Linked DNA regions of Homo sapiens: region 2 is linked to region 1. Evidence: fine-mapped expression QTL. Tissue or cell type: lung. Region 1 holds a variant in brackets; the other region holds the start of a gene. All regions are shown on one strand. Distances are between the middles of the regions.

Evidence for each region. PIP is the estimated chance that this variant, and not a neighbour inherited with it, causes the effect.
Region 2: CNTN6 starts here. The variant in region 1 is fine-mapped to the expression of CNTN6 in lung (TOPMed, PIP above 0.99).

The regions. Positions count from the first base shown.
Region 1 is chr3:1,232,494-1,249,312 of GRCh38, reverse strand. All of the region lies in intron 4 of CNTN6 (contactin 6), which reads right to left. Among named protein-coding and RNA genes, the nearest start is that of CNTN6, 150 kb to the right of the region's middle. RefSeq lists an enhancer at 12,613-13,812. The variant A/G (reference allele first, on the strand shown) is at 8,194.
Region 2 is chr3:1,082,809-1,099,627 of GRCh38, reverse strand. CNTN6 (contactin 6) reads right to left here and starts at 6,604. Exons shown (of 23, transcript NM_001289080.2): 1 at 6,508-6,604.

The DNA of each region.
Region 1 (16,819 bases):
TGCTTAATAAATATGCATTGTTTGGATGCATAAATGGATAGTTGAATGACCATCTTAGTGGTGGGAAATACCAATTACCATTTGTTTTTCCCTAAGATTTCTTTACATCATAATAGAGCTATTCCTTCTATCACCTTGTGTTGACCCCTATGGTAATGCTATTTGATTGTCTTTAGACATTAACCTAAGGTTCATTTTGAGACTGTTTGCTACCCACCGTCTGATATCTGTCCAGGGCAGCACCATCAGTGTTACCTGTGATCTTGTTAAACATGTAGAATCTTGGGCCTCACTTTAGACCTACTGAATCAGAATTTGCATTTAATAAGATCTCCAAGTGATTCCTGTGCACATTAAATTTGACAAGCATTAGTTGAATGATTAAGGAAGCGGTTAAGATGTCAGAATGTCTGGCATCAAATCCTAGCTTCACTATTTATTTATTCTTTTTTTTTTGAGATGGAGTTTCTCTCTTGTTGTCCAGGCTGGAGTGCAATGGAGTTTCACTCATGTCGCCCAGGCTGGAGTGCAATGGCACGATCTCAGCTCACTGCAACCTCCGCCTCTCGGGTTCAAGCGATCCTCCTGCATCAGCCTCCCAAGTAGCTGGGATTACAGGCGCCCACCACCACACCTGGCTAATTTTTGTATTTTTAGTGGAGACAGAGTTTCACCATGTTGGCCAACCTAGTCTCAAACTCCTGAACTCACGCAATCCACCCACCTTGGCCTCCTAAAGTGCTGAGATTACAGGCCCAACTTCACTATTTCTTGATGTCCTTGGGCACATTACTTCACTTCTCTGAACTTAATTTTCCTTATATATAAAATTGAAATTATAATAGTAGCTTCTATTTTACATGGTAGTTTTGAGGATTAAACTAGATTATCCTGTTTAATTAGAAATAACTGTAGGAAGGTTGGTACTTACTTTGAGGAAGATACAACTAAAGCATACATCACAGAGAATGTGATCAACATCACAGAACTTGAAATACTCATGTGGTTTATTTGTATAAATTCCCATTATTCCCTCACTGCTACAAAAATAGAGAAGAAAGTAACATAAATGTACTTACATCAATTTGAGAACTAGAATATGTTACCTTCCCAAAGTATCCATCTTGGAAATAGGGAAGGAGAGTTAGCCTCATAAAAGCACATGAAGGAATGCTCAAAGGAAATACTCGAAACCTAGTTTTCTGAAATTGGTAAGCAGAAGCTCTGGAGTCAGTTACAGGTTGTGAGCCTTCCACCAAGAAGAGCCACCCAACATACCAACAAAATAAGCAGTAGATTCACTTAAAATTTGACAAATTTAGCAACTCCTTTCTATTGTCTGCATTTTAGAGAATCTATTGATGCTCTTGTAACAGCTACAGTCAGAGAATAGTGAGATGCCCAGTGACATTGGCTATAGTGGTAGCAAACCAGGCACATAGTTTGGGAATTTTTTTTTTAACAAATGTTATGTAAAAGGCTTAATAGATACCTAATACATGGTAGCTATTATTTTTGAGATATGCTATAGGAAGCTACCATAAAAAAGCCAGCATTGCATGTCTGTGAGGGGACTATAATCCACGGAATCACCCACTGCTCTTGATGCAGGTTCACAGGAGAAGCTTCCCTCGGGCTTTTTATACTCAGGGTGATTATACTCACAGAAACAGTTGTTATATTTTTATCCAATGAAAGATATGTACCGCTCTTTGCCTTGGTCACTAATTCTAAAGCTTTTTAAAGCTCAATTTTCATAATGGATTGGATCTCATGGCATGAATTTTTATTCTCCTCTGGTTCTCTTTGGATTTTATTCTCCTTTGGTTTCACTTACAATTCAAGCCTCTTTTTTTTTTAAACCATATAGTCTATTTTAATAGCTATCAGATATTAAGACTTATTGTAAGACTGCAGTAATTACTAGAATATGGCATTTACAAATACAACAAAGGAAGAGAGAAAAAAGAGGTCAATAGCAGGCTCAAGCAGGCATGCAGATTTAATTCCCTTTAGGAATGGCACTGTAGAACAGCAAAGAAAGGACTGCATCTTTCATATATGTTCTGGCTCAATTGGATCCCTATAGAAAAAAATTGTATATTGAACCAATTTTACACCATGAAAATAAATGAATAAATAAATAAAATGCAGGTGCATTATAATTTAAATACGAAGGACAAAATACACTATAGAAGATAACAGGAAAATATGATCGCAAGGAAGGAAAACAGTTCTTAAACTTTTTACAAAAAACATCTCAAAAAGAAAAAGACCAATAGATTGAACTATGTTAAATTTAAATTTTTCTGTTTATCAAAAGACATGATTAAGAGAGTGAAAAGGCAAGCGACACAGTAGAAGCGGTTTCCTACACAAAAAAGCAACATTGTGCTCTTCTCTAGAATCAATCACTAATGAAAACAAAGACAACACAATTAAAATATGGAAAAATGAATTAAGTTATTCCTAGAAACCAAGGGGAGGGAGGGAGGTTTCCAAATAGCCAATAATAATTTTAAAAAGTGCCCAATTTCATTAGTGATCAGGAAACAGAAGCTAAACCAAAATGAGATACTTTTTACTATCCCCCTGCAAAAGGCTAAAATTTTTAAAAAGACTGATCATATCAAATATTGTCAAGAATATAGAAAAAAACATTACTGGAAAGAGTACAAATTAATAAAATCACTATAGACAACAATTTGGTGTTATCTTTTAAAATTGTCATATGCATGCCCAATTTCCCGATAATTCTGATTTCTGGTATATACAACAGAGAAATATTTACACAGATCTCCCAAAAGATATGTGCAAGAATAATCATAGAAGAATGCACTTAGAAATAATACAATTTTCCAATAACAGTAAAAGTTCCACATAAACTGCATTATATTCATACAATAAAATATTATATGTGATCAGAAAAATGAACTACAGCTACCTACAACAATATAAAAGGATCTCAGAAACATAGTTGGCTAATAAGCCAGACTTGAAGCAATATATTATATATTGCATGATTTTATTCATATAAAATTAAAAAGCAATAATAATTACAAATTCACAAGTCAAGATATGGCTCATCTTTGAGGCAGAAGGAGGATGTCATAACTAGAAGGGGATATAATGGGCGGACCTTCTGGGGGTGTTGGAAATATCTATTCCTGGATCTGGCTTAACAATACTTCATTGATCTATCTGCTCATGTTTTTTGTACTTTTCTGTATATATTATACTTCTAGGGAAAAGAAGAGCATAAATTAATACCTTAAAACAAGCTTGTCCAACCTACAGCCCTCAGGCTGCATGCAACCCAGGATGGCTTTGAATGTGGCCCAACAAAAATTCATACATTTTCTTAAAACGTTATGAGATTTTTTTGCAATTTTTTTTTTAGCTCATCAGCTAAAAATTTGTGTATTTTATATGTGGCCCAAGACAATTCTTCTTCCACTGTAGCCCAGGGAAGCCAAAAGATTGGACACTCCTGCTTTAAAACATAATTAACATTTCAATGGATTTCCATCAAAACTCTTTATTATTTGTATTTGCTGTTTATTTGTTTGTTTTTGGCTTTCTTATTGTTCCAATAATGTTATTTATTTATTTATATTCCTTTTTTTATTTCAATAGGTTTTTGGGAAACAGGTGGTGTTTGGTTACATGAATAAGCTTTTTAGTGGTGATTTCTGAGATTTTGGCGTACCCGTCACCTGAGCCACGTACACTGTACCCAATATGTAATCTTTTATCCCTCACCAACCCCCACCCTTTCCCCCAATCCCCAAAATCCATTGTATCATTCTTATGCTTTGTGTACACATAGCTTAGCTCCCACATATGAATAAGAACGTATGATGTTTGATTTTCCATTCCTGAGTTACTTCACTTACAATAATAGTCTCCAATTCCATCTAGGTTGCTGTGAATGCCATTATTTCATTCCTTTTTATGGCTGAGTAGTATTCCATGCTATATATATATATATATATATATATATATATATATATATATGTTATATATATATGTGTGTGTATATATATATATATATGTTATATATATATGTGTGTGTGTATATATATATATATATATATATATATATATATATATATCACATTTTCTTTACCCTACTTGTTGATTGATGGGCATTTGGGTTGGTTTCCATATTTTGCTATTGCAAATTGTGCTAATATAAACACGTGTGTGCAAAGATTTTTTGTCAGGCCTCTGAGCCCAGACCAGGCCATCGCATCCCCTGTAACTTGCACGTATACATCCAGATGGCCTGAAGTAACTGAAGATCCACAAAAGAAGTAAAAACAGCCTTAACTGATGACATTCCACCATTGTGATTTGTTCCTGCCCCATCCTAACTGATCAATGTACTTTGTAATCTCCCCCACCCTTAAGAAGGTACTTTGTAGTCTCCCCCACCCTTAAGAAGGTTCTTTGTAATTCTCCCCACCCTTGAGAATGTACTTTGTGAGATCCACCCCTGCCCACCAGAGAACAACCCCCTTTGACTGTAATTTTCCATCACCTTCCCAAATCCTATAAAACAGCCCCACCCCTATCTCCCTTCGCTGACTCTCTTTTCGGACTCAGCCCACCTGCACCCAGGTGAAATAAACAGCTTTATTGCTCACACAAAGCCTGTTTGGCGGTCTCTTCACACAGACACGCATGAAATTTGGTGCTGTGACTCGGATCGGGGGACATCCCTTGGGAGATCAATCCCCCGTCCTCCTGCTCTTTGTTCCTACCTCTCTACCTCTTCTCCACTTTCCTGGGGCAGGGCCAAGTACCCCTCAACCCCTTCTCCTTCACCCTCAGCGGCAAGTCCCGCTTTCCTGGGGCAGGGCCAAGTACCCCTCAACCCCTTCTCCTTCACCCTCAGCGGCAAGTCCCGCTTTCCTGGGGCAGGGCCAAGTACCCCTCAACCCCTTCTCCTTCACCCTCAGCGGCAAGTCCCACTTTTCTAGGAGGCAAGAACCCCCAAACCCCTTCCCTCCGTGTCTCTACGCTCTCTTTTCTCTGGGTTTGCTTCCTTCACTATGGGCCACCTTCCACCCTCCATTCCTCCTTCTTCTCCCTTAGCCTGTGTGCTCAAGAACTTAAAACCTCTTCAACACACACCTGACCTAAAACCTAAACACCTTATTTTCTTCTGCAACACCGCTTGGCCCCAGTACAAACTTGACAATGGCTCTAAATGGCCAGAAAACGGCACGTTCGATTTCTCCATCCTACAAGACCTAAATAATTTTTGTCGAAAAATGGGCAAATGGTCTGAGGTGCCTTACGTCCAGGCATTTTTCACACTTCGTTCCCTCCCTAGCCTCTGTTCCCAATGCGATTCCTCCCAGATCCTCCTTCTTTCCCTCCCGCCTGTCCCCTTGGTCCCAACCCCAAGCATCGCTGAGTCTTCCCAGTCTTCCTTTTCTACAGACCCATCTGACCTTTCCCGTCCTCCCCAAGCTGCTCATTGCCAGACCCAGCTAAGTCCCAATACTTCCTCAGCCTCCCCTCCTCACACCCGGTCTGGCTTACAGTTTCGTTCTGTGACTAGCTCTTCCCCACCTGCCGAGCAATTTACTCTTTAAAAGGTGGCTGGAGCCAAAGGCATAGTCAAGGTTAATGCTTCTTTTTCTTTATCCCAAATCAGATAGCGTTTAGGCTCTTTTTCATCAAATATAAAAATCCAGCCCAGTTCATGGCTCGCTCGGCAGCAACCCTGAGCCACTTTACAGCCCTAGACCCTAAAAGGTCAAAAGGCCGTCTTATTCTCAAAATACATTTTATTACGCAATCTGCTCCCGACATTAAATAAAACTCCAAAAATTAAATTCCGGCCCTCAAACCCCACAACAGGATTTAATTAACCTCGTCTTCAAGGTGTACAATAATAGAAAAAAGTTGCAATTCCTTGCCTCCACTGTGACACAAACCCCAGCCACATCTCCAGCACACAAGAACTTCCAAACACCTGAACCGCAGCAGCCAGGCGTTCCCCCAGAACCTCCTTCCCCAGGAGCTTGCTACAAGTGCCAGAAATCTGGCCACCAGGCCAAGGAATGCCCGCAGCTCAGGATTCCTCGTAAGCCGCGTCCCATCTGTGCAGGAACCCACTGAAAATCGGACTGTTCAACTCACCTGGCAGCCACTCCCAGAGCCCCTGGAACTCTGGCCCAAGGCTCTCTGACTGACTCCTTCCCAGATCTTCTCGGCTTAGCAGCTGAAGACTGACGCTGCCTGATTGCCTTGGAAGCCCCGTAGACCATCACGGACGCCGAGCTTTGGGTAACTCTCACAGTGGAAGGTAAGTCCGTCCCCTTCTTAATCAATACGGAGGCTACCCACTCCACATTACCTTCTTTTCAAGGGCCTGTTTCCCTTGCCTCCATAACTGTTGTGGGTATTGACGGCCAGGCTTCAAAACCCCTGAAAACTCCCCCACTCTGGTACCAACTTGGACAGCACTCTTTTATGGACTCTTTTTTAGTTATCCCCACCTGCCCAGTTCCCTTATTAGGCCGAGATATTTTAACCAAATTATCTGCTTCCCTGACTATTCCTGGATTACAGCTGTGTCTCATTGCCGCCCTTCTCCCCAACCCAAAGCCTCCTTCGCGTCTTCCTCTCATATCCCCCCACCTTAACCCACAAGTATGGGACATCTCTACTCCTTCCCTGGCAACTGATCACATGCCCATTACCATCCCGTTAAAATCTAATCACCCTTACCCCGCTCAACGCCCATATCCCATCCCACAGCACGCTTTCAAAGGATTAAAGCCTGTTATCACTTGCCTGCTACAGCATGGGCTTCTAAAACCTATAAACTCTCCTTACAATTCCCCCATTTTACCTGTCCAAAAACCGGACAAGTCTTACAGATTAGTTCAGGATCTGCGCCTTATCAACCAAATTGTTTTGCCATCCACCCTGTGGTGCCCAACCCCTACACTCTTTTGTCCTCAATCCATTCCTCCACAACTCACTATTCTGTTCTCCATCTTAAAGATGCTTTTTTCACTATTCCCCTGCACCCCTCGTCCCAGCCTCTCTTTGCTTTCACTTAGACTGACCCTGACACCCATTAGGCTCAGCAAATTACCAAGGCTGTACTGCTGCAAAGCTTCACAGACAGCCCCCATTACTTCAATCAAGCCCAAATTTCTTCCTCATCTGTTACCTATCTCAGCATAATTCTCATAAAAACACACGTGCTTTCCCTGCCAATCGTGTCCGACTGATCTCTCAAACCCCAGCACCTTCTACAAAACAACAACTCCTTTCCTTCCTAGGCATGGTTAGCATGGTCGGAATTCTTACACAAGAGCCAGGACCACACCCTGTAGCCTTTCTGTCCAAACAACTTGACCTTACTGTTTTAGCCTAGCCCTCATGTCTGCGTGCAGCGGCTGCTGCTGCTTTAATACTTTTAGAGGCCTTCAAAATCACAAACTTTATCAGTCCTCCAGGCCCAAGTTGACTCTTTAGCTGCAGTTGTCCTCCAAAACCGCCGAGGCCTTGACTGACTTACTGCTGAAAAAGGAGGACTCTGCATATTCTTAAATGAGGAGTGTTGTTTTTACCTAAATCAATCTGGCCTGGTGTATGACAACATAAAAAAACTCAAGGATAGAGCCCAAAAACTTGCCAACCAAGCAAGTAATTATGCTGAACCCCCTTGGGCACTCTCTAATTGGATGTCCTGGGTCCTCCCAATTCTTAGTCCTTTAATACCCATTTTTCTCCTCCTTTTAATTCGGACCTTGTATCTTCCGTTTAGCTTCTCAATTCATCCAAAACCATATCCAGGCCATCACCAATCATTCTATACGACAAATGTTTCTTCTAACATCCGCACAATATCACCCCTCACCACAAGACCTCCCTTCAGCTTAGTCTCTCCCACTCTAGGTTCCCACACTGCCCCTAATCCCGCTTGAAGCAGCCCTGAGAAACATCGCCCGTTCTCTCTCCATACCACCCCCAAAAATTTTCACCACCCCAACACTTCAACACTATTTTGTTTTATTTGTCTTATTAATATAAGAAGGCAGGAATGTCAGGCCTCTGAGCCCAGGCCAGGCCATCGCATCCCCTGTAACTTGCACGTATACATCCAGATGGCCTGAAGTAACTGAAGATCCACAAAAGAAGTAAAAACAGCCTTAACTGATG[A/G]CATTCCACCATTGTGATTTGTTCCTGCCCCATCCTAACTGATCAATGTACTTTGTAATCTCCCCCACCCTTAAGAAGGTACTTTGTAGTCTCCCCCACCCTTAAGAAGGTTCTTTGTAATTCTCCCCACCCTTGAGAATGTACTTTGTGAGATCCACCCATGCCCACCAGAGAACAACCCCCTTTGACTGTAATTTTCCATCACCTTCCCAAATCCTATAAAACAGCCCCACCCCTATCTCCCTTCACTGACTCTCTTTTCAGACTCAGCCCGCCTGCACCCACGTGAAGGTGCATGGGTTTATTTCACCCATGTGAAATAAACAGCCATGTTGCTCACACAAAGTCTGTTTGGTGGTCTCTTCACACGGACACACATGAAATTTTTTTCTTTTTTTTCTTTTTTTTTTTTTAGTATAATAACTTCTTTTCCTCTGGGTAGACACCAAGTAGTGGGATTGCTGGATCAAACGGTAGATCTACTTTTAGTCCTTTAAGGAATCTCCAACACTGTTTTCCATAGTGATTGTACTAGTTTACATTCCCACCAACAGTGTAAAACTGTTCCCTTTTCACCACATCCATGCCAATGTCTATTATTTTTTGAGTTTTTGATTATGGCAATTCTTGCAGGAGGGAGGTCGTATTGCATTGTGGTTTTGATTTACATTTTTCTGATAATTGGCAATGTTAAGCATTTTCCCATTTGTGCTTGCTTGCCATTTGTATATCTTCTTTGAGAATTGTCTATTCATGTCCTTAGCCCACTTTTTAATGGGATTGTTTGTTTTTTTCTTGCTGATTTGTTTGAGTTCCTTGTAGATTCTCGATATCAGTCATTCGTTGGATAAATAGATTGTGAAGATCTTTTCCCACTCTGTGGGTTGTCTGTAAACTCTCATGATTATTTCTTTGGCTGTGCAGAAGCTTTTTAGTTTAATTAAGTCCCATGTATTTATCTTTGTTTTTGTTGTGTTTGCTTTGTGTTCTTGGTCATGAAATCTTTGCCTAAGCCAATGTCTGGAAGTGTTGTTCCAATGTTATTTTCCATTATCTTTATGGTTTCAGGTCTTATATTTAGTCTTTGATATATCTTGAGTTGATTTTTTTTAAGGTGAGAGATGAGGATCCAGTTTCATTCTTCTACACTGGGCTTTTCAATGATCCCAGCACCATTTGTTGAATAGGATGTCCTTTCCACACTGCATATTTTTGTTTGCTTTGTTGAGGATCAGTTGACTGCAAGTTTTTGGCTTTATTTCTGGGTTCTCTATTCTGTTCCATTGGTCTATGTGCCTATTTTTGTAACAGTACCATGTTGCTTTGGTGACTATGGCCTCAGAGAAAAAGGTGAAGTCAGGTAACGTGATGCCTCCCAGTGTGTTCTTTTTGCTTAGTCTTGCTTTGGCTGTGTGGGCTCTTTTTTGGTTCCATGTAAATTTTAGGATTGTTTTTGCTAGTTCTGAGAAGAATGATGGTGCTATCTTGATGGGAATTGCACTGACTTTGTAGATTGCTTTTGGCAGTGTGGTCATTTTCACAATATTGATTCTCCCCAACCATGAGCATGGGATGTGTTTCTATTTGTTTGTGTCATCTATGATTTCTTTCAGCAGTGTTTCATAGTTTTCCTTGTAGAGGTCTTTCACATCCTTGATTAGATATATTCCTAAGTGTTTGTTTGTTTGTTTTTGCAGATATTGTGAAAGGGGTGGAGTTCTTGATTTGATTTTCAGCTTGGTCACTGTTGGTAGGCAGCAGAGCTACCGATTTGTGTACTTTAATTTTGTATCTGGAAACTTTGGTGAATTCATTTACCAGTTCCAGAAGATTTTTGGATGAATCTTTAGGGCTTTTTAGGTATACAATCGTAACGTCAGCAAACAGAGACAGTTTGACTTCTTTTTTATCAATTTGGACACGCTTTATTTCTTTCTCTTTTCTGAATGCTCTGGCTAGGACTTCCAGTACTATGTTGAATAGAAGGAGTGAAAGTGGGCATCCCTATCTTGTTCCAGTTCTATATCTTACTGGTTTAATCTAGGAGAGTTGTATATTTCCAGGAATTTATCCATCTCCTCTAGGTTTTCTAGTTTATGCATGTGAAGGTGTTCATAGTAGCCTTCAATAATCTTTTGTATTTCTGTGATATCAGTTGTAATATCTCCCGCTTCATTTCTAATAGAGTTTATTTGGATCTTCTCTCTTCTTTTCTTGGTTAATCTCACTAACAGTCTATCAATTTTATTTATCTTTTCAAAGAGGCAGCTTTTTGTTTGATCATTCAGGAGCAGATTATTTAATTTCCATGTATTTGCCTGGTTTTGAAGGATCCTTTTGGAGTTGATTTCCAATTTTATTTCACTGTGGTCTGAGAGAGTACTTGATATAATTTCGATTTTCTTAAATTTCCTGAGACTTATTTTGTGGCCTATCGTATGGTCTATGTTGGAGAATGTTCCATGTGCTGATGAATAGAATGTGTATTCTGCAGTTGTTGGATAGAATTTTCTGTAAATATCTGTTAAGTTCATTTGTTCTAGAATATAGTTTAAGTCCATTGTTTCTTTGTTGACTTTCTGTCTTGATGACTTGTCTAGTGCTGTCAGTGGAGTGTTAAAGTCCTCCACTATTATTGTGTTGCCATCTATCTCATTTCTTAGGTATAGTAGTAATTGTTTTATAAATTTGGGAGCACCAGTGTTAGGTGCATATATATTTAGAACTGTGATATTTTCCTGTTGGACTAATCCTTTTATCATTATATAATGTCCCTCTTTGTTTGTTTAAACTGCTGTTGCTTTGAAGTATGTTTTGTCTGATAGAAGAATAGCTACTCCTGCTTGCTTTTGGTGTCCATTTGCACGGAATATCTTTTTCCACCCCTTTACTATAAGTAAATTTGAGTTCTTCTGTGTTAGTTGAGTCTCGTGAAGACAGCAGAGACTTTATTGGAGAATTCTCGTTTATTCTGCCATTCCGTATTTTTTAAGTGAAGCATTTAGGCCATTCACTTTCTATGTTAGTATTGAGATGTGAGGTACTATTCTATTCACCGTGCTATTTTGTTGCCTGAATACCTTGTGGTTTTTTTTTGTTTTGTTTTCTGTTTTCTTTTCTTTTTTTTTAAACATTGTGTTATTGTTATATAGGTTCTGTGAGATGTGTGCTTCAAGGAGGTTCTATTTTTGTGTATTTTGAAGATTTGTTTCAGATTTAGAGCTCTTTTTAGCTGTTCTTGTGTTGGCTTGGTAGTGGCAAATTCTCCCAGCATTTATTTGTCTGGAAAAGACTGTGTCTTTCCTTCATTTATGAAGCTTACTTTAACTGGATACAAAATTCTTGACTAATAGTTGTTTTGTTTAAGGAGGCTAAAAATAGAATCCCAATCCCTTTTAGCTTGTAGGGTTCCTGCTAAGAAATCTTCTGTTAATCTGATAGGTTTTCCTTTATAGGTTACCTGATGCTTTTGTCTCATAGCTATTAAGAGTCTTTCCTTTGTCTCAACTTTAGATAACCTAATGACTATATGCCTAGGTGATTATCTTTTTGTGATGAATTTCCCATATGTTCTTTGAGCTTCTTGTATTTGGATGTCTAGATCTCTAGCAAAGCTGAGGAAGTTTTCCTGGATTATTCTCTCAGACATATTTTCCAAATTGTTAGATTTCTCTTCTTCCTCGGGAACACCAATTATTCTTAGGTTTGGGTATTTAATGTAGTCTCAAACTTCTTGGAAGCTTTGCTCATTTTTTAAGAATTATTATTATTATTATTGTTTGTCTTTGATGGACTGGGTTAATTTGAAAGCCTTGTCTTAGAGCTCTGAAGTTCTTTCTTCTGCTTGTTTGATTCTATTGCTTAGACTTTCCAATGCATTTTACATTACTCTGTGTCCTAGATTTCCAGAACTTGTGATTGTTTTTTATTTATACTATCTATTTCACTGAAGAATTTTCCTTTAATTTTCTGTATAATGTTTTTAATTTCTTTAAGCTGGACTTCACCTTTTTTTGGTGGCTTCTTTTTTTTTCTTTTTGAAACAGAGTCTCGCACTGTTGCCCAGGCTGGAGTGCAGTGGCGTGATCACAGCTCACTGCAAGCTCTGCCTCCCAGGTTCACGCCATTCTCCTACCTCAGCCTTCCAAGTAGCTGGCACTACAGGCGCCCACCACCACGCTTGGCTAATTTTATGTATTTTTTAGTAGAGACAGGGTTTCACCATGTTAGCCAGGATGGTCTTGATCTCCTGACCTTGTGATCCACCCGCCTCAGCCTCCCAAAGTGCTGGGATTACAGGCGTGAGCCACCGCGCCTGGTCTCTGGTGCCTTCTTGATTAGCTTAATAATTAACCTTCTGAATTATTTTCCTGGCAATTCAGAAGTTTCATCTTGGCTTGGATCCATTGCAGGTGAGCTGGCATAATCTTTTGGGGGAGTTGAAGAACCTTATTTTGTCATATTATCATTATTGTCTCTCTGGTTTCTTCTCATTCGGGTACATTATGTCAGAGGGAATATCTGGGATTCAAGGGCTGCTCTTCAGAGTCTTTTGTCCCATGGGGTGCTCCCTTGTTTCGGTGTTCTCCCGCTTCCCCTAGGAATGGGGCTTCCTGAGAACTGAACTGTAGTGATTGCTTTGCTTTTCTGGATCTGGCACCCAGTGGAGCTACCAGGCTCTGATTGATACTGAGGAGTGTCTGCAGAGTCCTGTAATGTGATCCATCTTTAGGTCTTGCAGCTGTGGATACCACCACCTGCTCTGGTGGAGGTAGTAGGGGAGTGAAGTGAACTCTGTGAGGGTCCTTGGTTGCGTTTTTGTTTAGCGCTGGTTTTGTGTTGGTTGGCCTCCAGTCAGGAGATGGCGCTTCGGGAGTGCATCAGCTGTGGTCCTATACGGAGGATGCAAAAGTATTCAGGTTTCTCAGGTGGTGGGCAGGGCGATAGAGCTTTCAAGACATTATGACTTTTGTCTTTGGCTACCAGGACACATAGAGAAAGACCACCAGACTGGGATAGGGATAAGGTGTGTCTGAGCTCAGCCTCTCCTTGGGTGGGGCTTGCTGCAGCTGCTGTGAGGGATGGGGGTACAGTTCCCAGTCCGATGGAGTTATATTCCCAGGGGGATTATGGCTGCCTCTGCTGAGTCATACAGTTCACCAGGGAAGTGAGGGAAAACGCAGTCACAGGCCTCACCCCACCCCCACACAGCGTGAGTCCTAAAGGCCAGTCTCACTCCCACCATGCCCCACCCGCCCCCAGCAGCACTGAGTCTATTTCCAGACAGCTAGTGACCAGGGCTGAGAACCTGCCCCAGACCACCAGCCTCCCTATTGAGAAAGCAAGCCGACTCACAGTTTTTCTGCATCTCAGGGAGCCTGCAGCGGTGATCCAGTTCTTTCAAAGGGTTTGTGGATTCTCTCGGCTTTCCTGGTATGTTCCTGGGGTAGTTTCTGGGGCAAAGTATGATGTGAGTCTCCACATGCTGCTCTATCCCTCCCAGCAGGAGCTGCAAGCTAGTCTTGCTGCTTATCCGCCATCTTCTCTCCTGTATTTGCTATTTAAACACCTGAATCTGATTTACTTTTTAGACAATATTGGATATAAATTCAGATAATTATATACACATTATTACTTATAAATGCTCTTTATATGTATTATATATTTATTTATATATAAATAAACAATAGAAATATTTGATCCTTTAATGCAAAAAATGTCACTGTAATTTGAACCAATTTTATAAATCTTAGAAGCAAAATCTCTATGTGCTATGTTCATAAATTCCTTGAAACAGTTTGTCAAATAACATGAGTAATAAACAAGCATTTCAGCTTGTGCATCTGTCTCAGTTTTGTAAATCAGAAACTCCCAGTTTTGATAGAATGGATCCCCTACTTTCTTATATTTTCCTCTCCCATCCCAACTCTTAGCCTGCACAATTTTATTCAAATGAACTAAAAAGACTAGCTCCTGCTGAATATAAGTAGAAGTAGGCAGTGGGAGAAGGCCTGAATTTTGAAAAAGTACCATTTCTGATAAGACACATAAATAGATTTCCAGCAGCGATAGTGTGGGAAAAAATGAGGCTAAAGCATTGAATAATCTACTTCCCTGTTGATTTTAAATATAAATATAACAGTGGCTTGCTATAATTTAACCACGCAACTGCTTACAGTCTATTTGTTTAAGATCTGAATTATTTTTAAAAGCAAAGACAAAGTTTTCTCCTTGATATGATAACAATTGGTGGTTATGCTGTTATTTCATTAAGACAAATTGAGAATATTAAATCCATTGTAACATTGCTTATGCTATTTGCAAATGATACTGAAAAAATCAATACTAATTTACCAACTTTTTTAATTTAAGAAATTAAAGAAAAAATATTTCTTCATGGCTTTTGTTCAGTTAGTTCTTTTCTGATGTAGAAAAAAGGTTAAAAGCCATTTAGCATTTTCATTTATAATTAGGTATGCATTACCCACTTAATACGCACTTCGCAATTATCGGAGACTTTACAATTTCCAAAAGCATTTTTAAGTGTTATTTTTAAAGCTTCTTCTGCTGGGTCTTAATTTCTTTTTCTGATATAAATGCACTTTATCACCATATCATCGGGAGCACATATAACTGCTTTTATATTTCTTATATATGAAAGAATTTTAAAGAAATTTGGAAACTCTTAAAATTTATTTCTAAATGTGAGGGTTTTTGTTCTTGCTTATAAGACCCTGGTCAAAAGATAGAAATAAAAATATTTATCACCTTTAAATACACAAATATCTTAGAATCCTTCTGCAAGGAGTCAAAGACCTTTATGTTACGACTTTACCTTTTTTGTTTTTCTTTGAATATGGCATTAAATTCATGAGAATTCTGATTTACTTCCTCTGTCTACAAAATAAATATAAATTTAAAAAGTTGTTTCAAGAAGGAAATGTTAGAAATTCTGGGTCTGCTGTAGGTTAGTTGACCTTGGGCAAGTAACATAGTTGTCCTGCCTTTTAATGTCTTCACCTGTAAAACATGGTTAAGAATAGCTTACAGGTATAGAATAAAGATGAATGGCATGGCAGGTGTAAAACCCTTTGCATTCCTCTGGAAAAAACTATGATGATTGTAAATGCCTACATGTTTATAGCCCTTTAAAATGCATTCTTACTGCATTTTAACCTTGAACCATTTAAAATCAATCCTGTGATGTGGTGCAAGAATTCGTTCACTCCATTGTATATGATAAAAACTGAGGTTTGGGATGCCCCCTAAGTATGTGTGCTATGGTTTTGATAATATTAATAATATCATTAATATGTCAGACTAACATATTTAAGGAAATAGTATGTGGTATTTCAAACTACTTTTTTTTTTTTTTTTTTTTTTTTGAGACAGAGTCTCGTTCTGTTGCCCAGACTGGAGTGTACTGGCACGATCTCAGCTCACTGCAACCTCTGCCTCCCGGGTTCACGCGATTCTCCTGCCTCAGCCTCCCGAGTAGCTGGGATTACAGGTGCACACCACCACACCCGGCTAATTTTTTGTATTTTTTATAGAGACGTGGTTTCACTATGTTGGCCAGGCTGGTCTCAAACTCCTGACCTTGTGATCCGCCCGCCTCGGCCTCCCAAAGTGCTGGGATTACAGGCGTGAGCCACCGCGCCTGGCTTCAAACTACATTTTATAAACAACTTCAACATCCTTAACATTATTCAGAACGGTTCCATTGCTCTTAGGATAAGCAGTAAAATACAAAACTTGGCCTCTTAGTATTTGTATGGCCAGACCCCTGCCTAGCTCACCATCTTCAACTCATACCAGTCTATCAGTTGCCCTTGCCCTCTGCTTTCCACATAATATATTTGGTCCTCATAGTAACCCTATATGAAATGGGCAATACTGGCATTTAACCATAAATTAACACCGTACACAGTGTCATACTGAGTGTGGAATATTGTACTATGATGGATTTTTGCATGTTTCTTTGGCATCTCATAATATCTCTAAATTATCCTATTGTTTGCAGATTAGGCCCGGATATAAAGGACTACTTATAAGTGGCTCCAAATTAGTTTTCAGTCTCAACCTAGAAAACCAGTCATTTCTGATCCCTAGCTTTCTGCATTTCAGTTCTCAGGTCTTTTGCCCACCTCCCCACACTTTCTTCGATACTTGAAGATTGTTCACACATCTGCATTTCCTCTTACTGTTCTTCCGACCTGTACTTTCTCTACCACTTTCTCTGTCCAGAATACAAACTAACATGTCAAGGTTCAATGCAAGCCCCATTTCCTTTGAAAGGCTTCCCTTGCCTTTTCTCCAATTCAGACAAACTTCACTACTTCTCACTTTGAGCTCCACTCTGTTATAGGTCAATTTCACCTTTCTCACTTCACTTGATGTTTTGGGACAGTGCAGTAGGTGGTAGGACTCTTCACTCTGTCTGGATTTGAAAACAGACTCTCCCACATACGGTGTGTGATTTTAGGCAGGCTAGTTCATTCTTCTGTGCCTCAATCTGCTTATCTGAAAGTGAAGATCATGATACTCTCAGAGGGTTATTGTGAGGATCAATGGAGCTAATTTACATAAAGAGTTTGGAACAATGCCTGCCACATAATACTTTGTA
Region 2 (16,819 bases), 150 kb after region 1:
CTCACTTAATGTGTATAAGTTTTCAATGTATGTGATAATAGAACACTGCAATAGTGAATATTTTCAATAAATTAAATATCCCTCAATAAGGGAATGAATAATAAGAATATAAAACACATAAGGTGAAATATATCCTAGAACTGTATTTATTTATTTAAATTAATTAATTAATTTTTTGAGACAGAGTCTGGCTCTGTCACCCAGGCTGGAGTGTAATGGCTCAATCTCGGCTCACTGCAAGCTCCGCCCCCCGGGTTCCCGCCATTCTCCCGCCTCAGCCTCCCCAGTAGCTGGGACTACAGGCGCCCGCCACCACACCCTGCTAATTTTTTGTATTTTTGGTAGAGACGGGGTTTCACCGTGTTAGCCAGGATGGTCTCGATCTCCTGACCTCGTGATCCGCCCGCCTCGGCCTCCCAAAGTGCTGGGATTACAGGCGTGAGCCACTGAGCCCGGCGAAATGTGTTTATTTATAAGAATGAGTCTAAATAGTCTAATATGGAATGAGTTACACAAGTTAAATAAGTTTGCTTTCAATATACTATTTCCATAATATTTTAAAATAATATTTTATATAGGCATACATATATAACAATTATATGTAAATATACAATTCATGGTAATGTAGAATGAGGAATGGACTAGGTAGAGTTACAACGTAGGCCCTTATTATATATTGTATTAGTATTTTCATTTTATGAATACTGAAGATGTTAAATCTCCAATAAAATTTAGCATTTGGTAATTCTGGGGGTGGGAATTGGTCATTATTAAATTTAATCCTTACCTGAATACTTAAAATTTCCCACTATATATATATATATATATATATATATATGTGTGTGTGTGTGTGTGTGTGTGTGTGTGTGTGCATTACTGCCAAAAGAATTCAAAGACTTATGTAACACCTAAAATTGTCTTGTGAAAGTGTGAAAATAGGAAAAACTGCCCATCTTTAAAAAAATGGAGTCAGCAGACATGATGTTGAGTTTATAGATTCTGCAATAGAAGTCAAATATATTATTCAAATGTATAATGGTGGCCAGAAGGAAAACATTACAATAAAATAAACTATAGAAAATATCTCTGTGAAATAAGACAGGAAATCATGGAAAGGTCTTTATTTTTTATTTTATTGTTTTCTCTATAATTTCAAATTTTATTGTTGTTGTTTCCAGGTGCATACATTACTTGATTAAGGCATTATCATAAAAAAAGAACAACAACAACATAAAACAACAGGAAAGAAATGTACAAGTATTTGTGATGTTTTTCTTTGAAGAAAGAAATTCTGGCTTATTTGTTCTCGTGCTTTTCTGTTCATTGCTTTTATAATCAAAAAATCAAATATACCCTTTCTCTTTTTTTTATTTTTATTTTATTATTAGTATTATTATACTTTAAGTTTTAGGGTACATGTGCACAATGTGCAGGTTAGTTACATATGTATACATGTGACATGCTGGTGCACTGCACCCACTAACTCGTCATCTAGCATTAGGTATATCTCCCAATGCTATCCCTCCCCCCCCCGCAAATATACCCTTTTTCTTGATCATGTCCAATTGCTTGGTGTATACAGAAATACCATTTCTATTTTTAATCTAGTTGGATCCAGAGACCAGCATCTCTATATCTTCTCACCATTTTTCCTGAGCTCTATTTTAATATCCACTTATGATTTACACTCCAAATTTAATTCTCTATTAAATACCCAATACAATTGATTAGATGATAATTATAATTTTAGTCTTTTCATTGTTTTATATTATTTTTACCCAATTGATCCTAAGGCTCATATATAAATGTTATAATAGCAATAATAATATAACAATAACTAAACAACTAACACATAGAGTGCTTCTTAATTGCCAGGCTTTCTTCCAAGATTTTTTACATATTTACCTGCTGAATTCTCTTGAAAATACTGTAAAGTCAATACTAATATTATCTCCACTATGAATGGGGAAACTGAAGTACAAAGAGGCTAAGAAACTTGCCTAAGACCACAGAGCTATTCTGTGCTAGATATAGGGAAGGAAATCTACAATGGGCGGCACTTCAGCTCAAGAGCTTGCCTCCTGAATCTTGCTCTCACTATCATTTTATTGACACTGAGAAATTGCTATTTGCTTTTTAGTAAGATCATTCGTTTTTTATAATACTTCATACGACACATCATGTTCTTTTATTGCCTCTTTTAAGGATTTGAAATATAGGGAAATTCAGTTATTTATTCATTCATTTATTCATTTAATTGTAAACCTAATACATATAAGTTTTCTACTCAGTATACTTTCAAAAAGGATTTGAGTCTACAGATTTTGATTCATGTTACTATGATGTAACGTTTCTGTAAATTACCTTAGGACTCATTGCAAAATAGTTAAGTAGGCCACAGACTTCATCAATATAAACTAATAGGGGACATTATCAGAAGGCATGCCCAATGGCTCTGTTTTTCCTCTACTATGTCCTGTGTTACGCCTTTACCGTAATAAATGTTTAATACTACAACACATCATGCAGATGAACTCAGTCTTAACTAGAACAGCTCTTTTCAATATGAATACTGAGAATAACAACATTCTAATAAAATTTTCATTCAAAGAATTCCTCCAAACTGAAAGATTGCTATTTAAAACTCCTTAAATAAAGAGATTTTTAAATGTCCTCTATTGTCCCACAGAAACAATAAAGAGAAATATAAAAGGTGGCAGTGGTCGTGGTGCAGATAAAAAACGAAGCAAAAACCCTCCGTCTTCAGTGAAAATGTTAGTGGACAAAACCCCAAAACACGACTTGAAGCCCATTTCCACTGTAGCCAAATACTAAAAATCATGGACCTTTGGGGGACATCAGAGAAAACCGATCAGTACTTTCTTTTTCTCTTACTTTCAGGAGGATACAGATTGCCCAAAAACCTGCCAGCTGAGGAAATTGCTAGAGTGTTAAGAGAAGGAAACATGTATTTACAAGATCACAATACAGAAGGTTGTGCCTTAATAGGTTTATTGCAAGCTATACTATTCATTCAAGTGGCAAACAAGAGAACAAGTGGTTCTCAAATAAAGAAGATAACCAATTTGTCAATTAAAATTGAAAAGAAATTTGGATATGAAAGATGTGGAAAGTAGACAAATGAGATACAACATGTACAAAATTGGTGATCCTGAAGAAAAGAAAGAAGCAAGATAACCACAATTTGGCCACGCCCAGTTAAGGGACAAAAAAGAAATAGTACAACAAATCCTAAAATAAAAGAATCTTAAATTAATGGGGCAAACCTCAAAAAAAGTTAATGAAAATGGAACAAATCCAGGAATATTCTGTAAAAGCAAACACCCATACACACACTCACACACACACACACAACAAAAGAATCATGTAGGCATTTATCAGAAAAAAAGCAAGTCACATTCAATGACGGAAATTGCAGACAGACCTAAAAATGTTGCAAAACAACTTTCAGTACAGGAAGGGTCTCCAAAAATGTTTAAACATTTACACATTTCCAAAAGAAAAAATTAAGCTTGATCCAAGAAAGATAACGTATCTTGCATGTCTAAGGCAAAAGAAATACATGTTCAAGATGCAAACTCATAGAAAATATAGCACCTATGACTATTTCTTTGGTGGAGAGGTACTACTTACTGAAATCTAACAACCCAAAAAATAATTGAAAATAAAGAACACAGAAATGGTGAATTGGGTAGTAAAAGCCTGTTGATAAAGGATAATTCCTTACAAATTTGAAATAAGTTTAAACTGAGACCATGGGAATTCAGCCAGAATGTATGTACTCAGTAATGTAAAACTGATGTAGTTTAAATTGAGGTGGTATGGGTGGAGTTGATGACAAGTCACATTGCAAATGCATTTAACTATCATAACAAGGGTTATAAAAGTTTGTTTACTATTTAAACGTGCATCCAAAAAAATCTTCAAACTATTTCTATTTTCAAAATTTTTGGTCTTAACTGTAAGGGTATTATTCTGGACATAATATCTCCATTGGAGAGAAATCTATACATGAAATTTAACAATTTCTTCAATGTTGTTTCAACTTCTCTTTTTTCAGTTTAATTAAAATCTAAAATCAAAAATTAAACTCAATGTTTCTGTTTTCTGTTTTCTGTTTGTTTGTTTGTTTGTTTGAGATGGAGTTTCACTCTGTCACCCAGGCTGGAGGGCAATGGCGCGATCTCTGCTCACTGCAAGCTCCGCCTCCCGGGGTCAAGTGATTCTCCTGCCTCAGCTTCCTGAGTAGCTGTGACTACAGGCACACGCCAAAACGCCCAGCTAATTTTTGTATTTTTAGTAGAAATGGGGTTTCACCATGTTGGCCAGGATGGTCTCAATCTCTTGACCTCGTGATCCGCCCGCCTCGGCCTCCCAAAGTGCTGGGATTATAGGTGTGAACCACCGCGCGCGGCCAATATTTCTGTTTTTTTTTAAGTGTAGGATAAGATCTCATTCTTACAGAAGAGTATCTATTATTGACTATATTATCTAAATATTTATTATTTATTTTTTAAAAGGTGTATAGTAAGAAACCATTCTTACAAAAGTATTTATCTCTCATCTTATCTGAATTTAGGCACCAGTATGTCTCCAATGATAGTCGCCAAATTTCATGATTGTTATTTACAGGTGATGGGTTTTCCCTTTTGAACTTTTATGTATAGTTTGAGTCATTTTTAATAGGTAGAACTTATACTTCTGCATTCCAATTAATATGTTATTAAAATAAACAGTGAATAAATAAGCAAATATTTTGTATTCCTTCTCCTCACATAAAAGAATTTAAAAGGTACAAATTTACTATTATACTACTGAGCATTTTTACTTACTAAAAAAAAAACCCAGAAGTATGCAATCAATTTAATATACCACACATCCTTTTCACAACATAATTGATTTTTTTTAGAGGGGGTTCTAAACTCAGAGAAAATATGTGATCCTTTTCTAAGTAAACAAGTGAATTTGTTTTCATTAAGGAAAGCTACATAAAAATTCTAAAAAAAAATTCTGGTCCTTCACTACAAATATTCAAAGGAAGTAATGCAATGAAGTCATTTATAAATGATTGACTTTTTTGCTAAGATGTGATAAGTTATGCATTTATATAACCTCACATAAAGCTTTATATAAAAGTTTCCACATTTATATATTTGAAATCTTTGGACTGCACAGCCATGATTATTGCTTAAAAAAAGAAAAAGAAACCCCACTGAAACATCAAAGATGAAATGCTTCTGTATTTCTTTTTTTTTACACAAATTGTGTAAGTATTTTTGTATGTTTATGTTTGTTTTGTGAACATGCGTATGTTTACACATGTGTGTGAAGGAGGAGGGAAAAAGAGTCTGCTTAAACATTTCTTTCCTTATAAAATACAATGCACATAAATTGGTGAAACCTTCAACAACAAAAATAAAAAGATGATAAACCCATCAGATAAATGAAAATTGCTCAAAACAAGCAATTCAATATTCAGCATATGCTTCTTCTTTTACAGACATCTTCAGAAAACATTGCCACTGTAGATAAAATTATGAATACCTCATTTTCCAAATTGATTCTGTGTGATTCTACTGTTCACTCTATTTTTTCTCAGTATAACTTCTATTTAGTCATTCTGTGAATGTTTCTCAGAGGACATAGTCAGGATGCTGATTATTTAAACATAAGTAGTTTTCATTTGGAGAAGCAAAAACTATGAATTCCAATTTTCCCCCCAAACCCCAATGTTACAGTATCCCATTAACATAATGGGTTATACGTGGCTAATCTCAGAGCTCTTAAAAGTTTTGTTCCCAAGTCATCAACTTCTGAAAGTTTTCATAAAGTATTATAAGAACCTTAATACTGACAACTTAACTGGTGTAAATGGTAAAGGAAACTCCAGAGGCTGTTATCTAGAAGCTGGGTATAAAGCAAAATGCCAGACAAAATTTGGTGAGCCCATATGACCTCCAGTCTTGCTTTGCTCCCCTTACCAAATTCTCCCCTAGGAAACTTTATAACCATTCTTTTAAATCATCCGGTGAGAACTGCAAACCCCACCCCTCATCCCTTTGATTAAAAAAAAAAAAAAGACAAAAAACATTTAGCGATCACATTTTCCCATCTGCCGTTACAGAAAGGGCGTGTAGCCATCTGAAAGTCCCAGAATTAGCACTGTCATCCCGTCTTGCCCATTAGTTTTACTGCAGCAAAGACTAGTGAAACACTGAGAAATATACCTGTAGTCTTTCTTTCCCTGGTTTGATCCTAACCTCCCGGAATACAGATTCAATACATTTCTCCCACACAAGGAATAAATGCATTTTAAACATCAGCATCATAGAAACACAGCATCAATAAAGCAGTGACTTCTCCCCCAACCCCAGCTTTTACCTGTTATGCTAATACAAAGACATTGAAAGGAAGAAAAGCTGCAGCTTGCCCAGCAATATTCTCATTGCAGCAGACACAGCACAATTTTGTACTTACAGATCTTACCAGGGAAATGTCTCGGGATCTTTACAGTTTTTCTGCAGAACTCTGTTTCAAGCTCTCAGCCAGGCATGCTGTGCGTCCAGGCAGAACCAAGCCGTATGGAATGTCTATGCAGCTGGGAGATAATGGGACTCTTTTTCCCAGCTGGGACTGCAAGCCTTTTATCCACTGAGTATTGCGTGGCTCTTCTCTGGTCTTAAGCATGAAATACGCTCCTCTCCTGCTGCATTCCTGTCGGAGCCAGACAATCAGTTCTTGAGGCACATGTGCAAAGCTCTCGTTTGGAATATTCAAAAGGAAAATTCTTTCTACATTGAAAGCCAGCTCTATCTTCATCAACCTTCACAGAATCAGAGAGAGCTGAGAGCAGCTGCCATTCCAGGGCCATGAAAGATTAAATTCACCCTCCTCTTTCTTTGACTGGAGATAGTCACTCCTGTCGGGTCATCAGAAAATCTCTCTTATTGAAAACTGGGTCAGACTAACTACTTATTAGGTTTCCAACAGGAAAGGAAGTAATTTTTTTCTTCCTCTGGTTTCACTGCATTGTCATTTGCAAGCAAAGATTAAGCTGGTCAAGGGTCTGCACTGATTTAGACAGTATTCAAATGTAAGCTTTTTGAAGCATGCCAGTAACTCCTATTAGTGAAGGTGAAGAGAAAAGGGAAATAAAATCAAATGATTGTATGCACTATCACTAAAACCTTTATAAGTTGTATTTTTTAAATGTGTGTATGAGGCTTCTTAAAGACAGGTAAAGAAAGTGAAGTCAAACAAGTCCAAAAGAGTATTGCTGCTTTCCGAGTAACATATTTGTAATTCCAGAGGCAGAGAACAAGTGTCTATGTGTTTGCCTAAGAGCTCTGTAAGAAGAAGAATTGTTTTTGTGTTTCACCCTGGGCCCTCCAACTAAACTTTTTAATATGTTTGGGTCTTGTCATCGGGTTTTGAAGGGACTAACTGCTTGAAGGATGAAAACTAAGGAATAGGAATTACACATACATGCACACTGAGACTCTAGTGCATACAAACATAACTATAACATGAGAAAAGAATGATAGTTTGGACTTATTTTCATGTTGGCATACAAAGAAATTATACTCTTAGCATCTTAAAGTAAGTGGATACTGAGAAAATGAAATCCCCAAATCAAATGGAAATAAGTCAAAAGATATTTCTTGGCCTCAGTTTACTTTCATCTGATGAGCAAGAAGGTTTCTATGACTACATTTTATGACTATGTCCTATGGATTTCTTCACAGGGTCTAACCAACATTATAAGAGGCTTTAGAAAGGAGATGATGCTTCCTAACACAAGGTAAACTCAAAATGGGCTACCCTATTGTTTCTCCCAATTCATAAGAAGGCAAACTAGACTAATAATTTTATAGAAAGAATATCTGTTTTTATTGCCTCTTTTTTTTTTTTTTAAAAAAAATAGAAGTATTTCTTGCTCTGTAGGAATAAAAATATATTTTATTTGTAAAAATGCCAAGATGACTTTTTCTGCAGAGTTTTAAGAAAAATAATCATTATGTAGTAGGCTTTATTTTTTTTTTGTGGAAAGAAATTCATTCAAGCTTAAAGAATATCCCTTTACTCAAATCTCCAACAGTCTGACTCATATTCAAGGACAGCTGATTGCTTTGCTTTCTATTTTACCCAAAAAGGAATAAGAACCAGAAGAAAACTTCAATAAGCTCCTGTCACTACATCTAGTCACATACTTGGCCCCTGTGACCACAGACTCTCCCTTCATCTTGTTACTTGAGGTGAACCGTGCTCCCTCCTTAGACCAAGCCATCCACCTGTGCTTTAGATAGTCTTCTACTCAAGGGACCATTCTACCCACTTGTCTCTCTCTGTGGAATCATCAACTCTCCCTACCTTCTGTAGCATCACAACAAAGAGATTTGCTGCTAGTTGGCCCATTTTAAAAATCAGCACCCCTTTAACATACCGTCTTCCTCTGTCTACTACTGCATTTCCTTGCTTCTGTTTATAGTAAAACACCTTGAAGGAATTCTCTGTACTTACTGTCTCCATTCATCTTTTCTCATTTTATCTTGAATCTGCTTTGATTAGTCTTTTGTCCCCACTGTTCCACATAAGTGTTTCTGGTCATAGTCAATATTAAATTACGCATAGAATAATGCAATGGTCAACTTAGTCCTAATTTTACTTGATGTATCACTCACAAGTAATACAGTTTACCAAGTACTCCTCCTTTAAGCATTGCTTTTGCTTAATTTCTTAAATTTTCTTCTCGTTTACTACCTGCTCCTTCTCAGATCCCTTTGCTGATATCTTCTCATTTTATTAATTTTTAAACACTGGGGGAGGAGGTGTGGGTATCAAGGATCTAAAACAAGGTCTGTACACTACAGGCTACACAGAATTACTAAGGAAAATTAATTAAGACCTAAATAAGTAAAGAAATATGCCACATTCATGGGTCAAAAACACTCAATATTTTTAAGAAGTCAATTATCTCCCAATAGGTTTTTAGCTTTAAAATAATCTCAGTGAAAATATCAGGAGATTTTCTTGTAGCAATCATCAAATGAGGCTAAAATTTATGTAGCAATAAAATTAACCAAGAAAGTAAAATCGAATGATAAACAAAGTTGGCAGACATATCCTGTGATTTTTACAATTTACTACTAGTAATAGAGCGATAAAGACGGTGTGATGTTGGCAGGATAGGTCAACAAAACATAATTAAGTGTTCAAAAACAGATCAGCACATATACAGTGGATTTTAGACAAAGGTATCAGGTAATTCAATGGATATTGTGCTAATGGATATGTGCCGATTTTAGGTGAATGGATTTTAGACAGAGTTATCAGGTAATTCAATGATAAAGGCATCATAATTCAAGAAATGGTGCTTGAACAAATGAATATTCATTTGTAAAAAAGTTAACCTTAATCCTTACCTCGTACCACACACAAAAAGCTAACGTGAAATAGGTCACACACTTAAAGGTACAGCATTAAATTTTCTGGAAGAAAACCAAACACCACATATTCTCACTTATAAGTGGGAGCTGCATGATGAGAACACATGGACACATGGAGGGGGAACAACACACATCTTGGTACCCATCGTGGCGGGTGGGAGGAGGGAGAGTATCAGGAAGAATAGCTAATGAATGTTGGGCTTAATACCCAGGTGATGTGATGATCTGTGCAGTAAACCACCATGGCACTCGTTTACCTACGTAAAACCTGCGTATCCTGCACATGTACCCCGAACTTAAAATAAAAGTTGAAAAAAAAAAAAACTTCTGAAAGAAAATGTATGAGTCCTAGGATTAAGCAAAGATTTCTTAAAACTCATGTGCATACACACACATAAAAACACAGAACATAAAGAATAAATAGAAATATTGGACTTCATTAAATTTAAAAAGACTGATTTTTGAAATATATCATTAAGAAATTTTTACACCTCAATAACAAAAAAATAAGCAACCCATTAGAAAATGAAAAAAAAATGAACATTTTTAGCAAAGATATCCAAATGACATTTAAGCCCATTAAAATGATGCTCAACATCATTATTTTAAAAATGCCAATCAAAACCGCAAGACACAGCTACTAGACACTAATCAAACAGGCTCAAATGAAAACCACTGAAAATTCAGTCTGGGACTGGTGGCTCACAGCTGTAATGCTAGCATTTTGGGAGGACACGGTGGGCAGACAGCTGAAGCCCAGGAGCTTGAGACCAACCTGGGCAACATGGTGAAACCCCATCTCTACAACAAATACAAAAAATTAGCCAGGCGTGGTGACAGGTGCCTGTAGTCCTAGCTAGTCAGGAGGTTAAGGTGGGAGCATCACCTGAGCCCGGGAGATGGAGGCTGTGGTAAGCCGTGTTTGTGCCACTGTGCACCAGCCTGGACAACAGAGTGAGCACCATCTCAAAATAATAATGATAATAATAATAAAATAAAATAAAATAAAAACATTGAAAATTCCAAAAGATTTTGAGTATGTGGGACAATTGGAACTCATACCTTGCTGGTAGAAATATAAAGTGCTACAATTACTTCGTAAAACAAGCTGGCACTCTTAAAGTAATATTACTGAGAAACCCCGCTCTTATGTATTCACCCAAAAGAAATGAAAGCATATGTCCACAGAAATTTTTGCAAGGAAATTTTATAGCAAATTTTTTTTATAACAGCCAAAAGTTGGAAACAACACTGATGTCCATCAACAGGTTAATGGATAAACAAATTGTGGTGAATGCATAATTGTAATACAAGTTAGCAATAAAAAGCCAGAAATTACTGATATTCACAACTTGGATTAATTCCACAGCTATTATGCTAAGAGAAAGATATCAAAAAAAAAAAAGCAATTCTATACTGACAGAAAACAGAATGTTTGTTTAGGGATAAGGAGAAAGAGATAAATTGCAAATGGGCAACAGGGAATGTTTCGGGTAATAAAAACATTCTGTTTTTGATTGTGGCAGTGATTACAAGGGTATATGTATTGGACAAATCTTATCAACCTAGACAAATGGGTATATGTCATTTCATGTAAAGTATACCTCAATAAAGTTGATTTTTAATGAATTAAATGATGACAGACTGTAGATTCTCTTAAAGGCTTTGAAAAAATAAAATCAATAAGTCTATCATTCTACCAAAATATTGTTGTGTACATTATTATTATTATTGATTTTAGTGAAACAATCACCTCTCTAATCTCAATTTATGTTTAGACATTTTAGTTTCTTATAGATCTGAGTTAGTTTTATTCATTTATATTTTTTCTGGACAATGATGAAGACGATGATGAACATATTGATAGGCAACTTCTATAACTCAAATTATGTGTCAGGTAGTGTCTTCAGCATTACATTGGCATTAGCAATTTATTCAATCCTTATAACAACCTGATGGGTTTGATATTATTTGCAAAATCTAACCAACAAGAAAATTGGAACATAAAAAGTTTAACTAAATTGCCCAAGAACATCCAACTGGGTGACAGTGGGGGAAGAATAAAACCTAAGCAGCTTGACTCAAGAATCTAGACTAATATTGTTTTATTATTCAAATCGCTATACTCTTTCTCACATTTTGTCTACTTGACATGTCAAGTTCTGTGAGCGGTATCTTAAATATTTCCCAGAAATATTTTTCAAATGGAGCAATTATCTTTCAAGAAGCTTTGTACTATATATTCTGCTGCTAAACTGTTTCATCGATAAAGGCTACACACACACACACAAACACACACACACATATACACACTACATATATAAATATCTCTAGTGGATTTTGTTTTTATGATTATATAACATCTTAAGAATCCTTTTAAATATGTTTACATCTCCTTGACATGAATTATTTTCAGCATTTCTCCTTTCTTTCTGGTTTTTGTTTTCCTGTATATACTAGAATATTAACACTTTTTCTCACTGTTTTAGATGCCTTTCTTATAAACATCATTCAGCTTGACTGAAAAAAAATTGGCGTTGTCTTTTTATAGGGTAGCTTGTCCCATTTGTATTTAGTGTAGCAGCTAACATTTGTACTGAATATATGTTTTCCTTCTGAGGTTTGCAAAGGCATTGATCCCAACAGTTCAGTTGCACACATTCCAGTGGAATTGCATCACTTGGCGGACGCCGACATTAGGCAGAAGCTCACAAGTAGAATTTCTCTGAAGGAATGCTGTGGCAAAGTTTCTTTGCCAGTAAAATCCACTTCAGTGAACCAGGAAGCACTGCCTTTTTTTTTTTTTTTTTTTTTTTAATCCCTCAAGGCCCCAAGGGGAGCCTCTTCCTATAGCTGCTATTTCCTCTTCTCTCCTTACCAAAGAGGGGGAAAAATCCAATGTCTGTACTTTTCCTGATACTTTCCAGTGAAATACTTGGGTTGCTCTTCACTGCCAACTCTTGAAGTGGGCATTCAAAATGCTATAAACTTCAGGCTCCACAAAACCCTGATCTACTTCTGCCTCCTACAGGAAAATATTATTGACTATTGCTCTTAAATAATTGCCTTGTTGTGAAGAAACCTGTAATGACAGTTTTTTCTCCAAATAAATTAAAAGCAAAGATTAACACATAATAATTTATTGAACATGCACAATTATTTTAAAGATCTGTCATATACCAACATGAGTAATATTGTCTCGGTGTTATTTATTGCTTTGGTTTGTTTGTTATGCCCATTGGTATGTACAACTTTTCTAAATAACCATTGTTTAAAAAAATATTTTCTATAACATACTTTTCTTCTATTCACCACAGACACTTCTAATATTACCAAAATATGAATAATCTTCTATAATCTTCTGAGTGCTTCCTGTGAGCTAGACACCAAATCCAAAATCTCACTTAGTCCTGGTAACAACCCTATGAGGCAGATATTCCTATCACCTTTGACTAGCAATTGAGGTTTTTGCCAAGATCACACAACGGTAAAAAGATAAACGGGGATGTGAATCCAAGTCCACCTAACCCCAGCATTTGTATTCTAAACCTCTTGTCAAGAGTCCCCTGCTATGTCCATTGGTATATCAAATAGAAGGCGAAAATAAGTGCTATAATTTTATGGTTATTTCTAGTGTTGAAGGTATAGTAAAAAGTTTCTCTTAAATATGTAACGTTTTAGGCTATAACTGCCAAGATTTAACAATTAATTAGATAGTTAAGTCCGACATTCTTCAAAGAACTGCTTGTTTTCATGAAAATGGTCTGAATGTAATTATTTGTCTCAAACCTCCACGGTGCTTTGGTAAAGAATAGAAAATATTAAATGGTCCCAGGAAATGGAAATCATTTTTTTTTCTCTTGCCTTTTCTTTTCCTTTTTGGTGAGGGAGTGGTAGGGATTAGAGTGTCATGAAGAGAAATCCACTGCACATATCAACGTTTACTTTCCCTCAGGAAAAAGTGCATTGAAGGGAGGGTGATAACAATTTCCTTAGTCTTTTGCCCCCAAAACAATTTTTTTCACTTATACCACATATGTGTAATTTTACAGATATTCAAATTTCACTTCCCTCTGGAAAAACAAGTAACAACATTTTGCCGTGAAACGTATTCCTTTTCAAAGGGAAAATAGTAAGTGAAATGCATATATTCACCTTCTACCACATGGTAGGAAAATGTATATTTTAGAAAGCTATTGTAATACATTCAATTTAAGATCCTTGAATCTATTCATATAAAAATAGAGGAACTGTTACTTACGGCAACTTAAAATGGGGACTGGGTAAGACCTGGTATCTTATGACATGAATTGTTTTGCTTCAACCCTGGAAGGACACTGCAAAATTGTTCCATGAAACTGCCTGCCACCTGCTGCTTCCAACACTGAATTTTAATGAGTGCCAATTGCTCTGCAAGGCTTATTATTTTAGAGGTATTTTTTACCATAAAGCCCATTGTGATCTTTCTAAATTATAGAATACATTGCTTGGGCCCCAGTGAAAATAAATGTATTTCATTAATGCTATTCCTCTTCTACTCTAATTTTTTTCAACTCTGAAGATTGAGAGATGTTCCACATGTAATAATTATTACTGTATCTTATTTCCCAGGCATAATGAAGAGGTCAGAAGCCATACCCTCTAAAATCTTACTATGCATCAAGAGTGTAGTCTCTTAAATAACTTTTCTGTCTCCTCCATTTTTGTTTGTTTGTAATTTATGAAGTGTAAAAATTGTTGTGTTGTGTTTCTTTGATGTTTAGACATAGAAAACATGAGAGTCATTAGTTCCCATTAAATAGAATTTACCTATTGGCCTACTAGCATCATTACCAGAAATACGTCATAGGCTTTTCTTTCACAGGAAATATACTGATATTTCTTTTATAATCATATGGTAGATTGATTTATTAGTCTCAATTCCTCACCTTTCCCTGCACATACACTCTTGCCATTGCCTGATCATAGATGGAGTATACTTCTCTGCCCCTTGATTTGGGGCTTAAACATGTGACTTGCTTTGACCAATAACATGTGACTAGAAGTCACAACGTGCTGGCTATAAGCCTAGGCTTTAATTGTCGTTTGTGTTTCTTCTTACCTTCTTGTTACCTCTGCTATTACCATAGAAAAACTCACTTTGGCTAAACTGCAATCCATGGAGGATGAAAAGTACTTGGAACAGAGCTATTCCTGTTGATCCAAAGATCTCAGTAAACATCAGAGCTGCCCAACTAAGCACAGCCTAGATGACCTTACCCTCATCCATCTTGTATACATGGGAGAGAAATCAATTCTTCTTGTCTTAAGCCACTGAATTTTGAAATGATTTTCTATGGAACCATAACTAGTCGATACAATATTATCACTTATTGAAACCAAGCTGACTTAGTCTGGGTTCTCCCAAGAGCGGAGCTTCAGTCAAAGAGTTTTTGCCTTTTGTCACGTTAGCCACTCATTTCAAAACGTGATCTCAGAAAACAGTAATCACAGTGTGAGTTAAAAATGGAGCAAGGAAAAGCCAATAAAAGGATGTATTGAGTTTTTCAACACCATATAGGAATACGTGTTCAATAGTATAGAGACATCTTTAAAGTGTATCAAATGCCTCTCAGGGCTTTCCACCTGAATTAAGCATGGAAGAAGCATCTATCTATTGGCTCCGATACCTTAGTAACAAGGTGACCATATACCCCATTATGTAAAACAGGACAATAACCAGAGTGAAAGGAGAAAGTATTAATAATAGTAACTGAAAAAACTGGTATAGCTGAAATCAATCCTGAGCCAGTGAGACTGTGTGGCCACCCCACATATTGGTCAAAGTTTGTCCTGTGGGATATTAACTCTTCTACACATCTAGAGTACATACCTATATGAGTAAGAGTCAGCTTTGTGTGAGTACTCAGTATCAGAGAAACTGCTGGATGGGAAATGAGAATTGTGAGAAATGGATCACTGTCAGGTAATATTTATGTTAGGCTGAATGAAGCATTAGCTTGAATGTTTGGTCAGGATGAGAATATTTGAAATGATGCAGAAAAACAAGGCATAGAATATAGTTCCTCCTTTGAACCACTCAGATCTACTCATGACCTTCTTTAAGTCCAATCAGTAACAAAGTCAGATTCTGAATTGTGTCAGCCAAATTCCCTGCAATGACTTAAGGGTAACAGACTTAGAGAAAAAAATTCACAAGCTTACTGAACTTGTCTTAAGCCGTAATTCATATCCATCATTTCATTTCTTTACTTCCAAATCTAGACTTTCTTCATGCTTCACTACTAATTTTACTTTTCCAGGTTGCTTATCTATTTGAGTAATCCAGACATTTTTCCTTGAAGAGATGATAATATTGCATACTTTGCCCTAGTGAAACTATATTGCTGTATTTGCCCTTTCACAATTATTACTGTACAGTAAATCTTAGGAGATACTCCACTGAATTGCCAGCACTGCAAACATACTTCTTCCAGATGCCACTGTGTAGCAGCAAATAGGCTTCTTATGGCATTATGGGTTAATTATATCTACTCATATATTAACTTTTTTCTTTTTCTTTGGGTCTATTGGAATAAGATAGTTAAAGAGAAGAGGTAGGACTCATGGGGATGGGAGGCCAAAATTCTGCAAATGGAAAGACTAATGTTACCATTACCTGTCATTTCCTGGATCCATGTCTTCCACCCACTATGCACAGAACCATATATATTAAATGCAGGCTTAGAGCATATTTCATATTCTAGAGGACTGAGCATTAACTCTGCAGGGTATGTTCCTGGAACTCTCAACTTAGTTGAATCTTGAACAGTTTATTCCATCATTATTTTTGACTGGCTGCCTCTGAGTGACAGGGTACATGATAAAACCGTTGAAAATTCCATTGTCATTCATCCATCGTCATTCATCCTTTGCTACAAAATGGGTCCCTTGATCTTAGTTTTTTATATATATGTATATATATGATATATATGACATATATATCATACACACATATATGACATATATATCGTATACACACATATATGACACATATGACATATATACATATATGACACATATGACATATATACACATATATGACATATACATATACGACACATATACATATATGACATATATACATATATGACACATATACATATGACATATATACATATACGACACATATACATATATATGACATATATACATATACGACACATATACACATATGACATATATACATATATGACATATGTACACATATATGACACTTATACATATATATGACACATATACACACATATATGACACATATACACATATATGACACATATACACATATATGACACACACATACACATATATGA